Linked DNA regions of Homo sapiens: region 1 is linked to region 2. Evidence: fine-mapped expression QTL. A gene starts in region 2. The other region holds a variant in brackets. All regions are shown on one strand. Distances are between the middles of the regions. Region 1 has its middle 110 kb from the start of FTCDNL1. Region 2 holds the start of FTCDNL1 (formiminotransferase cyclodeaminase N-terminal like).

What was found. PIP is the estimated chance that this variant, and not a neighbour inherited with it, causes the effect.
Region 1: its variant is fine-mapped to the expression of FTCDNL1 in whole blood (INTERVAL, PIP above 0.99).

What each region holds. Positions count from the first base shown.
Region 1 is chr2:199,735,524-199,743,863 of GRCh38, reverse strand. It overlaps a transcript of FTCDNL1 not described here. Among named protein-coding and RNA genes, the nearest start is that of FTCDNL1, 110 kb to the left of the region's middle. The variant C/A (reference allele first, on the strand shown) is at 4,905.
Region 2 is chr2:199,846,986-199,855,325 of GRCh38, reverse strand. It overlaps FTCDNL1 (formiminotransferase cyclodeaminase N-terminal like), which reads left to right and starts at 4,134. Exons shown (of 5, transcript NM_001363886.2): 1 at 4,134-4,586; 2 at 6,357-6,478. The coding sequence starts at 6,364. RefSeq lists an enhancer at 3,668-4,242 and a silencer at 4,074-4,353.

The sequences.
Region 1 (8,340 bases), 110 kb after region 2:
CAAACCACTGAAAATGCAAATTGTTTACCAGTCATGTTGGAATTCCTGGGGGAAATTTCTATTCCCTTCAATTCTGAAAATATCACTCTGGAAATGTAGTGTTAGAAGAACCCTCAGAGGAACCTATAACCTCATTTTATTAACGATGGCCTGCAGACCCCGAGACACTAAGAGGCTTAATTACCATCTTGCAGCCAGTCAGAGGCAGAGGCAAGGGACGTGCATAGGTTCCACACAGCATGTAGTCTCAGGAGAAACGCCCAGAGCCTCTGACAGGCTGCCTTTGCCTGCAAGTCAGGGAGAGTCTCCACCACTCCATCTACACCTTTGCTTTTGGTCCTCATTTAATCAGTGCAGAAACGTTCAATGAATATGTACTCTCCACTCAACAGTGATAGACAAAAGCATAACATTCTGTCTCAAGAGGTAAACAGTCTGGTTTTGGATGTTCAGGCTAACATTCAAGAAAAGAATACAAGAGAATATACAATTTCACATAAGCAGCTAAAATCCTAGTGGGCTTCTAAAGACTGCTTGGTTTCCTGAGAGTCTTTCGAGGGGCTTTGAAGTCAGATCTGGATTTGAGCTCAACTTTGTTATTAACTGAGTGACCTTAAGCAGTCACTGGGCCCACTGAGCCTCAGTTTCCCCATCTGTAGAGAGGAGACTACAGGGCTGGGGACAGATCCACATGGGCTGTTGAGGTGATCATGGTGGTTATGGTAACCACACCACTGTAGCCCCAGCTGCTGTTAAAACAGCTGCCACTGATATTCCCATTGCCCTAGGGATAAAACAGCAGGAGCTTAGTTGGAGATTAGCCTCCAGCTGGCCCTCCAGGTAACCCCTGAAGGCTGCTTCATTCTTACAGATAAATAACATTTCCAGTCTTCTTTATAATGCTCGCTTATTTTCCCCAAGAACCTAACAGGTGGGTTTTTGCGAGACCCATTTGTAGTTCCTTTGTGGTCCTCCTACACTGCACCATAAATATCCAAGCATAATTCTTCCTCCTCCTTTGTGAATTGGAGGAAAACTCATACCTTATTTTTCTACTTCTATTGTAGTGAACTTTTTCCTTGTTTGACTAGAAACCGAGAGACTCTTTGGGTACAAATCCCAACTCTGCTTCCACCTGTTGTGTAACCTTGAGCAAATGACTTCATTTCTATGTGCCTGATTTCCTCATCTGTAAGATGGAGATAATCATATATTCATATCATATGGCGGTTGAAATCATTAAACAATGTATTCCATAAAAAACACTTAGTATGGAGCCTGGCACATAGTTAACACACAATAACTATGAGCTATTAGTAGTAGTATCATCAAGACTTTAAGAAGAGATAAAATTGCTTTGTGTAGGACTACTTTGAATAAAGAAGAAATTAAAATAAGGAAGAGAATCTCAGTGCAAAATTCTCCAGGCGTTGATCCCCGAACATTCTAGGCATTATGATAAATCCTAAGAAACAGAGTTACTTTGGAGCCTTTGAGCAGTTAATGGGAAAACAGAGGAATTCCCCCCACCCCACATTGGTATAGTAAATGGAGGGAGGTACCCACAGGGCCAGGGGAAAGAAGGAGCAGGGTGTAAGTCTTCATGGGAGGCGTTAGGGAAGTGTTGGGGGTAGTGGGGGAGTCTTCACAGAGAAGGAAGACTTGACTTGAATTTGAAAGAATGGTTAGGAGGGGATCAGATGAACACAGAAGCCCCAGGATGCTCTAGGCAGAAGGACCAGTGTATTTAAAAAAAAAAATTGAGGCAGAGAGAACAAGATACATTCTGGAAATAGCAAATAGTTGGGTCTGCTGTGGGGCATATGAGGGCGGAGGGTAGGAAATGAAGCTGGAGACGGTAGGCAAGTATTGGTTTATGAAAAGCCCATGTGCCATGCTAAAGAGTCCAGATTTTATCAAGGCAGCCAATATTACATAAACTGTATTCCCCAGATTCGTCGATATGTTAATAGCTGTTCCATTAATTTAAAAACATTCTGTGGTCCAATATATTTGAGAAATGTTTAGTACAAAAAAGTTAATTTTTTTTTTACTGTAGGATTTTCAGAGCATTAATATGTCAAGAGGAAGATATAAAATGAAGCTTTCTTAAAACCTTTGATTTGGTTTTGAAATACTTCTTATAGTGCGCTTGTTAACATCTAGTTCCAGAGGACAATAAAGAATTTTGAGGAGGGAAGTAACATTTGAAAATATTTTATTTAGGATTACAAAGACAATTCTGGAAGCAAAGTGGAGATGAGCTAGAGAATGTTAATGAGGGGGAGGTGTTTTTGAAGGAATATATTATTTGTTCCGTAAGTATAATAATTATTCTGAAATGAGTAATATAAATATGTCACCTAATCGAAAGGGACTGCTAATTAAAAAATAAAATGTTGAATTAGTTCTTATTTAAAAAGCATGGTGGTGCTTTGTGGGCCAGTGCTACTTCCTACAAGGAGTTCATCAATTAATTAGGTACATATTTAATAGACTTCTTTGGTTACCCAGTTTTGCATTTGTATTTTCATAGGTTGATATGGAGACTTTGAGTTTTGTTTTTTCTTTTGTTTTGTTTTATTTGAGAGACAGGGTCTCACTCTATCGCCCGGGCTAGCGTGCAGTGGAGCGATCATAGCTCACGGCAGCGTCGAACTCCTGGCCTCAAGCGATCCTCCTGCTAATGCCAACTCTAAAATACCCAAGGCAGGATGAACACAGGCTGTCTTCTACTTATTAACTGCACGAACATAAGCAAGTTATTTAATCTTTCTAATTGCAAATTTTTTAACATATAGAGGGGAGGTCATAATTCCTGCCTCAGGGAGTTGTGTTGATAGAGTGGCATGACCGTTCTTTGTGATCTGTGAAGGACTGCCTGAATGAAGACTTGTGAGACACTGCAGGAAGCTGGCACACAGTGGACCCTCTATAACATTTGCCGAACCATTTCATGAAAGTAGATCCTAGCCCTGTCTTCTAACAGCATGAAAAGGGGCATGTGCTCAATTTGTGTAATCCAAATTTTCAAATCGAGAGTTGCTACCTGTTAGCTCTCCCCAGGACTGCCACCTCCCTTTCGTGTGAATGTGAGTTGCGTTTCCAGACTCCCCTCAACAACCTCCCTCCGAGTTTTCCTAACTCAAAGAGGCTACAGGAGATTCAATGACAATTGCCTTTGAGGTTGCCAGAGCAGGCAACTCTTTGTTTCTAATGAATCCATTGGATGGGCCTTTCTCCCCTGCAGCCTTGCTCTTGGAGATCACCTTGATCACAGCTCACCCCACGAAGCTGGGGAAGGGAGGGCACCTATGGAATGTCCTTATGGTGTTCTAACACGTCCTTAGAATGGGGCTCCAGCCCTGTGCTCCACTCCTCCGGGCAGCTCCCATGATGCTCAGATTAGGGGGCAAGAGGGAATGGGGCAGAAAATAAGGCGATTCAGAGGCTCTGGAGAGCTCTCAGAACTACAGCTTGGCTTGAGTTCCCACTCTACCTTTTGGTGGTGCAACTGGCTACGTCAGACTCTGAACTATTAACACCTGCAGAGTTTTCTCTTCTCCAGGCCCTGCTCCATCTCAAAAGTTTCCGGCACCACCGTGGCTGCCTTTGTTTCTCTTGTCCTTTCATTTAGGTGGCTCTTTGCCAGTGATGGTAGCTCATAAAGATGACTAACAGTCATAAAATGAACCGAGTTGTTTTTCCATGCAATAGTGATTCTTTGCAGTTATAATTCTTCTGAACTGACAGCTAAGAAGTGAAAAAAGGTGCGGTAATTGAAATTAATTTCCCCTTTAAACAGTGGTTGTTTTCCACCCTCGAAGTTCTTCTGGCGGCAATGCGTACTCTCGCCAGCAGGGGGCAGTGTTCATCTTTAAATGACGTGAGCCTGGCAGGCCCGGCTCCCAGAGTTCGCAAACCCCACCGTGTCCCAGGATCCTAGGCCCTCCAGAGCCCATACTGAAGTTCTTCTACACACAACGTCTCCTGAATGCAAATCTTATGGACTGGTAAGTCTAGATTTGCTCTGAGTTCTGACATTAAACAAAAGCACTTCCATAAAACGGAATGACGGGGACTTTATGGCAGCATGCAGCGTTATTTTCATTGTGAATAATGTTTTAAGCATTTCGGGGTGTTGGGATGGTCACAGAGTAACTGAAAATCACTCTAGTATTATCATAGCTGCTAAACTGGGTTTTTTGTTTTGGTTTGGTTTTGATTGTTGTAGTCACCCTGAGGCTGTTCGAATAAGCAAGGGAGGAATGAAACAACTTTCTCCCAATTAGCCAAACTCCTGTATGGAGGCCTCTGTTCTTTCACATAAGCATACTCTAGCTTCCCAAAACAGAAGTGTGTTGTCCACAGTGTGGTGACTTGGATTTTGAATGTAAAAACTAGAATCACACTATGTTGCAAGTCAACTTTTAACCAATGAATAGATGATAAGCCCAATATACTCTAAGTTTTACCCGTAAAGCTCCTTCTGAAAATAAAAAATTCGCAGCACACATTTGTGTGCATCCTTGCAGTTTTAGCCCCCTGTTGATAAGAGCACCCCGATTCCGAAGTGGTAGAGGGTAGGGAAAGAGGAAGGGCTATCTCCTCTCCAGTGGCCTTGAGGCAGGAACCAGCATTCAAGAATGTGAGTGAAGTCGGGTGATTAAAATAGCCACACTGCTTCAAACTTTGAAATCTTACTTAAAACACAGTCTTCATTTTATTTCAATGAGAGACATACACTTTAAGGAAACATTTAACATTATTTTTCCAGGTTCTTGAAGAATTTTGCATTTCTTCCTTCCTTCTGAGACATGGTTTCTAGTAATTTCCCCATACAATTTGGGCTTCCTGTGACTGAGAATTTATTGCAACGCCTGTCACATTTTATGGTGCTATTA[C/A]GAAATTTAACTGAAATACATGAGAATGGTGTGTTTACAAAGGTTGTGCAATCCTCTGAGTTAATAGAAACAAAGTTCCTTTGGAAGAGTTAAGTGGGTCTTAAGCTATAGTACTGAGAGAGGGATACAGAGAGAGAGGAGGAAATTTAGCCCTTACAGTCTTCACCTTTGCTTCACTCCATCATTATTTGCTTTTCTCTTTACCATCATTGATAGTTGAATTCAGCATTCACACCAAAGCAGCTGTGTATTGAAACGAGCTTTCTTAAGAGTTAAGGAATTTAAAGCACTGAGATTTTGGACTTTGGGAAACACAAAGTGAATCATTTGACCTTGAATTGTGTATCACAATCCTCTGTTTCAGCATGAAGACTGCATATGTACATGTTTAATGAAAAAGACCCTTAAGGTTTGCAAGGGGGAAAAAAAAAGCAATGCCCTAGATTTATATATTCCATTAAACGTGATCTTCACAGGCTAATTAGTTAGTAATTTCACCCTTGCTTGTAATATAAACCATTTTATGCTCAATAATAATAAAATCTATGTAAACCAGGCTCTTTATTAATAAACATGATGTGCTTCTGGCTTTCAAATAAAATAATGCTTTACGTGCTTTCCTGTCTATCATGCCTAGACTAATCACACAGTAAAAATCAAACAACTAAAACAGTAGTTTTTATCTCATGCTGTAGAAAAACAATAGAGAGACCACGTCAAGAGCTTCTGAATGAGCCATGAACTAGAGAAGGCTGGGATGGGGGAGAGAAACCCAAATCTTTCTTTCAGTGTATGGTATCGAGAAACTTTTAGGCTCTTAAAATGATTCAAAATATGTTTTTGAATAATGAGCAGACATCTATGGAATTGCAGGTGAGGGAAATGACTGAGAATCCCGTTTCTTATCAACTCCCCCAACCTGTGAGAACCCAGTGAAGCAGTTAATGGAGAGGCTCCGTGAGCCTGTGCCGTGAGGCAGCTGTGGTCATTGAGGCAGCTTCCCCAACAGACAGGAAGAAACAGGGAACCTTATGTCTCAGGTTCAAGTATCATACAAATATCTTCTAACTGAAACGCTCCTAATTGTGGAATTTGCATTACTCTACCTCTCAGTAATAGGTCACACCCAGGCAGGACCAGCTACGTGACACGCAGGGACCACTGCAAAATGAAATGCGGAGTTCTTTATTCACGTTATTCAGCCTTTCAAAATGATGCCAGCAGAGCATTAAACCAAGTGTGGGGCCTTCTAAGTGCGGGACCTATGAGCCTATGAAGCCAGCTCTGTGCCCAGGAGACACAGTGGCCCCAGGCGTGACACACAAAATTAATTTTTTTCTACACATTTCATCTCTCTAAAAGATTGTTTTAGTCAACACAGGAAGAGTTCTGGTCATTTTAGCACCACTATGAAAGTTTTCAAAAGGATAATTCCAGGTAACCTTTCTGTTGATATATTTAGTATACCTATGAGTATTTGGAGAACTCTGGAAAAATAAAATATTTATTGACAAATGAAAATGTCTTTACTAGGAAATATATTATTTCAAATTCAAAAGTATCCAAGGCAATCTGGGAAATTCTATTCATACTATGAAGGCTCCTATCTGAAATTTCCTTTTGTTAGATAATAACAAAAATAATGGCTAACATTCATTGTTTATTAAGTGCTTTATATGTATTAACCTGTTGATTCACTAAACAACCCAGTAAGATGGGTAGTATTATGCCCAAATTATAGACTGGAGGCAGAGAGTGATTAGTTAAGTCACTCAAAGTCACAAAGATGGTAAGTGACAGACATGAGATTTGGTCCAAGGTAATTGTTTCCAGAGTTCTTGCTCTTAACAACATCACAGCTCTCAGACAAGGTGGAGAACACAGAAAGTAAAGTTGCTGTTTTGGAAATTTATTCCATGATACTTCAGGCACTGTGGCTCAGCAGTCTGGCAGCCAATGGCTTTCTGCCAATCTCTCCTGTTTCCCTGTGTCCACTGTGGTCCACATTCATTCCACAGTGGGACAGTTTGGGCAACAGGGGGTTCCCAGGATAACTGCTTTGAACTGAATTAATCAGTTCAATCAAACAACCCTTCAACCCAGTCAAATTACCAGTTCAATTGACTATTGCTTTGACTGGGTTGGTTGGTGCCTGAACTCAGTGTATGGGTAGCTGCGTCTTTTGAGGCTGTGTAGACACTCACAGTTGTAGATTGAAGTGATATCACTACTGTGATGCCGAATGACACTAGTCAAGTTCTTCCTGTAAAAACCAACATCACCAGGCTTGACTCTGTGGGAAGGGGATTTGCTTCTTCTCTAATTGAATCTAAGCATGTTAAAATATTGTTTTTCCTCAGTGAAGGCAGCTTAATGGATTGAATTAGCAATACAGAGGTAAAGACAAAATATGAGACAGAAGGCATACTGTTATTTCTACCTTTAAGGGAGAATGCTGCAGGTAGCGTTTGAGAAGATTTTCTTCTATCTAGAAAGTCAAGGTTAGCATCCACATTGTGAGTTCTAACAAGCAAGTCAGGCATCCCCCATAACTCTGGAAGTACAGGTTGGAGGCCAGAGTGCAAACTGGTATTTGTTTAAGGTTGACTAAGGCAGGTAAATGATCCAAGGAAGCTCATGGAAACATTGAAGGGCAGACAAATGAAAACCTGAGGCATGTTTTTAAGAGTCAGGTTGATAGCCTCTTTGCTCTGTAAAGATCTGAAGATGCGTCCACTTAACCTGCACCCATCTCTTTATCACTGTCAAATATTTACAGATAAATGTTTAAGTGCCTGGAAGCTTGGAGAGCTTTGCTTATCAGAAAGCCAGTTTTAAAAGGCACTTAATGCTGGAGTTGGTGGGCTGATGAAAATGCCCTCTGTCCCATTTACTTCCCAATAGTCACAAAGCTAATTGGGGTTGGCATAGGCTATTCTGACTTTGCTGGGAAGAAAATCTTGAAACATTTTCAAAGAATTCATAGCTATAAAAGGAAAGGCTATTAGAGGGTAGTGTACATAGACAAATGATAGATTTGTCCGCTGTCGTATGTGAGTCTTTGAGGGAAAAATAGATGGTAGTTATTCTGGCTCTGCTGTATTCATTCACAAATATGCAACAGATATTTATCAAGTGCCTTGTTGCCTGGTGTCATGCTGGAAATTATGATAGAGCTGTGAATATGGCAGACAAGAGCACTGCCTTCACTAAGACACAGCCTTAGTGCGAGAAGAACACAGCTATGGCGTCTGCATACCGTGTGCTTGCTCACCACCAAACATGAAAAGACGAGGAAGAACTCTTCTACTTGGGCATCTTCTGATTTCTTTGCCCATTTCTATAAAAGAAGTTTTTTTACCTGAGGACAGATGGAAATGCTTCTTGCTCACCACTAAAGATATGTCTAGGGAAAAACCAAGGAAGCATGGAATAG
Region 2 (8,340 bases):
ATTTCAAAAATATTAAGGTGAAAAATAAATTGTTAATTTTCAAAATTCTATGGTTCCCCACACCCTTCCTTCATCCAGACAAAAATGGCTAGTGATCATTTTATGTAATTAATACACAGGTGTGTGGGGAATGGAGGTGTTTCTGTTAGTTGCTGTCACTTTTTTCTGGACATCAACCTCCTTTTCTTCGCTTAAATTAATAGCACAGCTTCTGTCACTCCAAACTAATAATGGCAGCAGTGAAACCTATTTGCTATTTTAGAAAAATGACTAGTAGAACACATATTTCATAATATCACATGATAAAACAATTTAAAATTCACAGGTAATTAAAAACACTTCACTGTCCTATAGTGACAACTAAGATCACTTTAAAAAATCCCTCATTTATCAGACCACATTTATATGCAAGGAGAAATAAAATCTTTTCACGTTCCATGAGGGAAGAAGATAGAATGAAGTCTGACGTAGTGCAAAAATGTGATTAAAGTGAAACAAGTTGCAATAAGAATTAGACTTCTGTCTTTCTAAGGATAATTCTCTATTCATGTTTTCCTGAACACAAACAAATGCTACACCAAAAAAAAACAACCCATAATATAGATAGTATTAATTAGGAGGTTCTTTAAAAACATTTCAAAATTCTGCTGCACAATAGGAAACCTAATTTTCATACTCTGAAATGTATCAGGTACGTAAAGTTGATTCTTTTCCTAGTTCCAAGAAGGTTTTGCCTTCTTTTTCTTTTTCTTTTCTTTTCTTTTTTTTTTGAGATGGAGTCTCGCTCTGTTGCCCAGGCTGGAGTACAGTGGTGTAATCTTGGCTCACTGCAAAGCTCCACCTCCTGGGTTCACGCCATTCTCCTGCCTCAGCCTCCTGAGTAGCTGGGACTACAGGCGCCCGCCACCATGCCTGGCTAATTTTTTGTATATTTAGTAGAGACAGGGTTTCACTGTGTTAGCCAGGATGGTCTCGATCTCCTGACCTTGTGATCTGCTCACCTCGGCCTCCCAAAGTGCTGGGATTACAGGCGTGAGCCACTGCGCCCAGCTCTTTTTTTTTTTGAGACAGAGTCTTGCTCTGTCACCCAGGCTGGAGGGCAGTGGCACAATCTTGGCTCACTGCAACCTCCACCTCCCAGGTTCAAGTGATTCTCATGCTTCAGCCTCCTGAGTAGCTGGGATCACAGGCATGCAGCACCATACCTGGCCAAGTTTTGTATTTTTAGTAGAGACAGGGTTTCACCATGGTGGCCAGGCTGGGCTCAAACTCCTGACCTCAAGTGATCTGCCTGCCTTGGCCTCCTTAAAGTGCTGGGATTACAGGTGTGAGCCACTGCGCCTGGCTTGCCTTCTTTTGAAATAAATTGGCTGTCTCCTATCTATGGAGGTCTAGAAACTCTTGAACAGAGTATGAATTATATGTCTCCACTGGCCTGGAAATTTCTATCCTTGACATTGTTGGTTTTGTTGCCCATTTTGTGGGGCAGAAGAAAGGATGCAGGCAGGGCGGAGTGGCACAGTTTCCTCTCAGGCCTACAATCAGAAACAGGTTGGCACAAGCGGACAATCCCAGGGCCAGGATCAGGGTGAGGTCAGTGAGGCTGAGTTGAGAGGCAAGTGCAGGGTCGGATCCTGTCTTTACTTAAGATTTTGATATTTTGTTCACCACATTTCTTTTCTGCATTAATTTTTATTTTAAAAAATGTCGCATCCCTGAGTTTTTTGGCACCTACTTACATTTTGTGCCCAGGGTGAACGCCTCACTGACCTTACCTTCATCCTGGCCCTGCTCAACCAACACCTGGGCTGTGGGCTCAGGTAGATCTGTGAGGCCACAGTGAGCACAGCCTCTCCCTTTTACCCTCTTCAGCTCAGTTGGGTCAGGAAAGTCTCCTACAAGAACTAAGTTCTCCCTGCTTGCAAAAACGAAAACAAAGGGTAAAGAAAAGTGTCCTCTTTGTCTAACAGGAAGCCAATGGGAGTGTTACAGAACAGCAGTTGTCGTAGATAGAACTGACCCATGGGAGTTTCAGTTGCTCTATTCCAGGGCTTATATCTTTCTGGACAGGAACCATAATGAGCAAAAGAACTAATGCCCACAAGGTGAATTTAGCAGAAGAATCAAGGAGTCAGAATAATACATTAATTCAAAAAGTAGGAAGACTCCCTCCAAAGAATGCTAAGTTAAATAAAAATGAGAGACTTAAGATGCACACAGAAATGTGACATAAAGCTCTTTTATGTAGTGAAATGGGCAGGAGTACATGCGGTACACCTAAAGTAACCGATGGTAACTTTCCATTCTTGAAGAGAACAAAATAATACTTTCAATCGTATCGCTAAACTTCTCATGGGACAGGTTGGTATGTGTCTCCTTGTATTTTCCAAAAATACATGCTTACCCTCCTCAGGCAGGGGCCGGATGCTGCCCCCCACAAAGAACACTGGGGCCCTGCTTTCTCTCCATTTGGGTTTGAAGTGAGTAGAGTGGAGAAAGGGATGCTTTCAGAAATGTTATCTTACTTAATGCCCCCATAGCCTGTAGCTCCGTAAGGAACAGTCTCTCGGGAGAAAGAGAGGATTAGGAGCTGTGGGGGGAAAAGCTTTCCTTCTGGCAGTTTCTACAGCTAGAACCATGAAGCCCCCAGGTGTCACACTGTTTTCTCTGGAGAAATATTATAAGATTAGATGTAATGTTATTACGCTGTCTCATTTGGCAAGTAGTATCATTATCCGATTGTTTGGAAAGGTGAAATACAGGGGATTCTGGTTCTTTGCCCTACCATGGAAGGAACATTTGGACACCACATTACTTTTTTTGGAAAACGGAAGCTAAAGCTAGAGGCCAAAAAAGCTCTCAAAAGAGAAGATGAAGAAAGTTAGGAATATTGGTCTGATTAAAAAGCTCTCAAAATTATCTAGTGAATGCTGACATTAGATAGGTATTGGTCTTTAGGTAATAACATGGGTATGTATCTACTTTATGCACTTCTATGCAGATTTAGTAGAAAAAAATACCTAAATATATATTTAATTCCATAGGATCCCAGTGCATTTTGAGGATTTAAACAGATAAGCCAACCTCAAAGGGACTGATTCTTGCAACTAAAACACAGACACCTCTGGGGTGAAATGTGGCAACAGTTTGACAGGCATAGCAGTAGCTTAGGCCAGAAAGGATTTATCCAATTAAAATTATGGGATGAATTTTGGCTGGCAGAATGTAATTACCAGCCTTGGAATGGATCCAGGATCCTGAGGTTAACACCCCTCCTCTTGCCAACAACCCTCCTACCTGCCAACACTCCGAGATGGAGAAGGCTGGATCTGACATAATCGCACATAATACTGTTGTGACATCTAAGTACAATGATGATGATGTGAGAAGCATCATGAACCTGATTTTTTTTAACACTCATTATGTTACTTATTTTTATGCCACATTAGGCTAGAAACCAAATGTCCACATAAATGTTAATTTCCTCAAATCTGTGTTTAAAAATTATAATTAGAAAATAAAAAATAGATTTAAAAATTAATTTATTCCGTCAAAGTAGTTATTTAGTGATTATTTCACTACAGGAACAAAATTGGATCAAAATGGTGACATTTAATCCTTGCTACACGAAAAAAAAAAAAGCAGGTCCTGATTTTTTGGAAGCGAAATGTGTTTTCAAGGTTGAGTGGCCTAGAAAAAAAGGAAATGCGGAAGCCTGATTCATATTCGTTGTAACTTTGACTAAATGGGTATGCGCAAGGACTGCTTTTGTCCCGGGGTGGGTCCAGTTCACAGTCACGGGGGGCACTAATCCTCCAGGAGGGGATTTACCAGAAGGGTGTGTGTGAGTGCGTGTGTCCCTTCCAAGGAAACGAGAGAAGAGCCCCCTGCTGGTGCATGATCAATAGGCAAAGACCTGATCATTAGATGCCAATGCCCCTTTAAAGTCATTAATTGACTAGAGAATTGTGGAGGGTCTGGCGATACGGAAGAGCAAACGAAAAGGCAACACTGATAAAAATCTGAAGCGTTCAAGGACGCCAGGCACGTGGTGCCGGGTCAGGGAGGGAGAGGCAGAGCCAGCCCGGTCGGTGTGCGGCTGGGGTGGGGCGCGCTCCGGGCGTCCGGGAGGCGGAGCCGGCGGCAGACGCTGCGCGCGGGCCACGCGCGGCGGCGGAGGCTGCGCGCGGGCCACGCGCGGCGGCGACTTGGGCTGGGCGGTCGCCCTGCCCCACCGCCCTTCGGCGCTCGCAGGTCCGCTCCCCTCCCAAACCGCAGAGCGGCAGGCGCGGCCGCTGGTTCGAGAGCTCGGCCGGGGCAGCGCAGCCGCCGGCTGCCCCTCGCTCCCAGGCGCCACAACCCCGCGCCCTCGCCGCTGCTGCGTCCCGCGAGACCTGTGGGGAGGCCGGGAGTCACTTCGGGTTCCCTTTCAGCCCACGTGGTCCTGGGACACTCCACCCAGGAACCTAGTCGGCACCGCGCAGGGAATCCCAGCAGCGGGGTTCTGGCCCCAGCACGCGTTGCGGCAGCCTGGCGAGCGTCCTTGCGGCCTCCAAGTGCCGGTGGGGTGCGTGCGCAGGGGGCAGGTGAACTGCTGCACTTTGCACTTGCTAGGCTAGGTTCTCCGCGGGTGGGGAGGCGCGGGGGCGGGGGACGGCCGAGTGTTTAATCTATCACCAGAGGTCATCCAATGGTAATTGAAGGATGAGCTGGGAGGACTAGGATCTCCCTGTCCCAAACACAGAGTGTTTTGGGGGGCTTGCGTTTGGGTCACTTTCTGAGCCTGGTACTGCCGCTCATTTCAGCTTCGCTGTGAAGGTGAATTTTTCTAACACCATCTTTGTGTGATTTAGCTGTCCACAGGGAATCAAAATGTGGAATGAGAGGATGAAACTAATCCTTTCTTTTGCACTGTTAGGGGTTGCCATAAACACCATTTGTTAAAAAGCATAATTATGTTGGGAAAGTGCCTGATGAGACAATTAAGCTGCATAAACACACTGAAAACAAATGAAAACCAGAAGACGCCCACACCCCTTGTGTAAAGCAATTTTTTGTTTACATAGAAACGAGAGGTCTGGGTTGCTTTATTACAACAATGTTATTAATATCTAGAAAAACCTAATGACAGAATTTTTATGAATTTTCAGTGATGAGATGATGGACATGATATGAAAACCTGCCTGCAAACCTGAGCTAGCTACGAAGCCTGAGCTCTCTCTAGGTTAAGATGATTAGGCCAACGAATGATCCTGGCGAACAAGCCAGTGGATTTATTGAGGGAGAGCACCATTATTTGCACCAGAGCACTTTTAGCTTAAACTCTAAAGTTTAACGCGTGTCTCAGAGTTAGACCACTGTGGTTGGTATCCCTCACACAGGGAACAGTGGTTGGTATCCCTCACACAGGGAACATTACCTGTCAGAAAAAGACCCTCATTAAATATTTGTTGAATGAATTCATGAGGGCCTCATCTATTTTTAGTTATGGTATTTAAAAGAGACCAAAGTTATGAGGTCCTGAACTTGAAGAGGGAAATTATTTTCTTATTATTTTAAGATGTTTTAATTCCTTTAGATCATGAATATCATTTGAAGTATGGAAAGATGTGTCAAAAATGCTATTCTAGAGTACTAAAAAGTATCAAAGCAACCTCCAAAACCTGTATAATTAATTTTCAACAAAAATCACATTTTTGATATTATTGAATAATATGTATCAGAATATGTATCATCTTTCAAGTTACAGAATTTTGTAAAAAGACTTTAAACTGATTTAGAAACTTTGGTGGAACAAGGAGGAACTTAGACAATTGTCATGTAAACCATCCAAATGGCTTCCTTATTTATTTGTATAATGTCCATGGCATGGCCTGTAGACACTTTCATTTTTGCTGCAAGAATTTCTTTTATAAGAATCCACATATTAAATAATCTTCCTCATTTTCTTTTTCTGCATTTCCCCACTAAGTCTAGTTTAACAACAAAAAAAACATACCTGTTTGTAAAATAGTACAGACCTTGAAAACAGGGATAAGGCTAAGGAAAACTATGCTTAAAATGGGATAACATACTTTAATGAAAAACTTTCACTTACATGATGAAATTCACGCTGAGGACCCTGCCAGGTATTTTCCAGTGTCGTTACAAGGTTTATATGTATGTGACCATGTACACATGGTTTCTTATTTTAGTCAATCTGGAGATTTTATGCTTTAGAATTTTTCTAGGAATGAAATAGTAAAGTGCTCATATTATGACTGCTTCGTTTCCAAAAAGTTATGATTTTTTTATAGTTAAAACATGAAAATATGAATCAACTCTAGAGACACATAAAAATTTTTCTCCTATTCCAGAAAAATCATGTCTTCTTCCAGAGTGGGGCTCCGTTTGGCTGCCTGTTTACTAAACGTTTCAGAAGCCGGAAGAAAATACATTGTTGAGAACATAGCAAAAGCAGCTCTTCTTGACAAAAATGGTAGGAAAAACAGACAATTGAAGCTGAATATTATAGTGTTTTGATAATTTAGTAATTTTTGTACTGTGCACACTGTATCTACAGAACACTTTTCTTTCTTTCTTCCTGAATTTTCCTCCTTGCTCTTGAGCTGTTGCAGCTCTGCGCAACTCCAGGATACTGAGATAGCTCAGTTACTCAGATGTGCACATATGCTCTTTTCCAAATGTCTGCATACGCTCAGCAGCGCAGCTCTTAACATTTGCGTGTGAATCTCTGAGATGCGTGTTGTTCAGGATATTGACAGGCTCCTGGGGAGGATGTATTTACATAAAAGTATAATGTTTCCCTCATGGGTCGTTTATTTGATCATTAATAGAATGAGCATAATCGTACCTTATGCTTTTTATTGAGCAGATTAAATGAAAAATAAACTTGCCAAATACCAACTACTTTTCCCAGCACTCCTGCCAGCAAAGCCCATGCAATCATTACAGTATTATTATTTCTACCCTCTTTTCTCTGTATAGACACTGTTAGGCAAGTGCATTTAAATGATGCGCTTAAGATCACTCAGCAATTTGGTGACAGAAGACTGGAACTCATGCCTCCTTATTCCCTCGGCCAGTATTACTATGAAAGATACTGCTCTTTAAAAAACATTTCATTTTTTAAAATGTTCCTGTGGTGACACATGGTTAGGTATTATTTGTCTTTACTTTGACACACACACTAATACACACAACAGTGTATACAATCATTTAAATAGAATGCTGTTATTAAATCAATAACTTTTTGGCAACAGGTGAAACCAACCCTAAAGCATTTCAGACAGTAAATTTTAATTTCCGATTGTCATTTTTAATGTGGTTACTGCTTTTCATAAGAAAGAAGTGTTTTCCCCCAACCCATCTTAACTGTGAGCACATTTAAGTTACTGTCTTGCAACTTTGCAGGAGCTAGAAATGTCTATGAAAATTCCTGATAATTGCTGATAAGAAAACTTCTTTGGAGTTGGTATGCAGCTGTGATTTTGCATGCTTTTTGTGGAAAGAGCCAGCTCGGGCTCTTCATTGTCAGAAACAGTACATCTAATGGGATTGGGTTGCCTGTCTCTGTGATTAAGTGAATGTGCAGAGACATTTGTGGAAGACACACACTGATGGATGCCTGGGTCTCAACTCACAGTTTTTATCAGCTTATTAGTGGCAGCAGCTCAAATGGAATTATAGCTATTATACTCCATTACAAATACCAAACAATTTACTTCTGCTGAGATTCACACTGACAGCTCCTCTTGCCAGCAGTAATTTCTTTTCTATATGCATGCTTAAGAAATTGCAGGAGAGTGTTTTATTCTTTCAGCATTTGATTCAATTGAATCATATGAAACTGAGAATAAAAGCTTTTCAGGAGAAGATTTAGGATGAAAAAAATTACATCATATCTCGTTTCTTCCAGGAGTTAGAGTATGTTGAAAAACTATATAAAATAGGAAGTTGCATGATCTTCTTCTTACTTCATCTTTTGTAGTTTTCAAAATGCAAGGAAGGTAGCACTAGTTAAGAAAATGAACCTTTTTTTTTTACAAATATTTTAAAGGCATTTATTTTTAAGTGAGTGGAATAAAACCATATAAACTGTATTTTTTTTTTCTAATTAAGCAATGTGAGCACATTTAAATGGCCTAGAAAGGTCTTAGGTAAAGGAATCTGAGTAATAAATTTTAGACCTACACCAGGGCAGGACTCTACAGATGCTCGTTTGGCCATGAGTGAGTGACATATGTTTATCTTCTCACATTATTAAAATTAATAGTGTAGGGCTGTTCTAAGCTCTGTAGTTCCTGGGTGTAACTTGTTTTTCCTTTCCTCTGAAAAGAT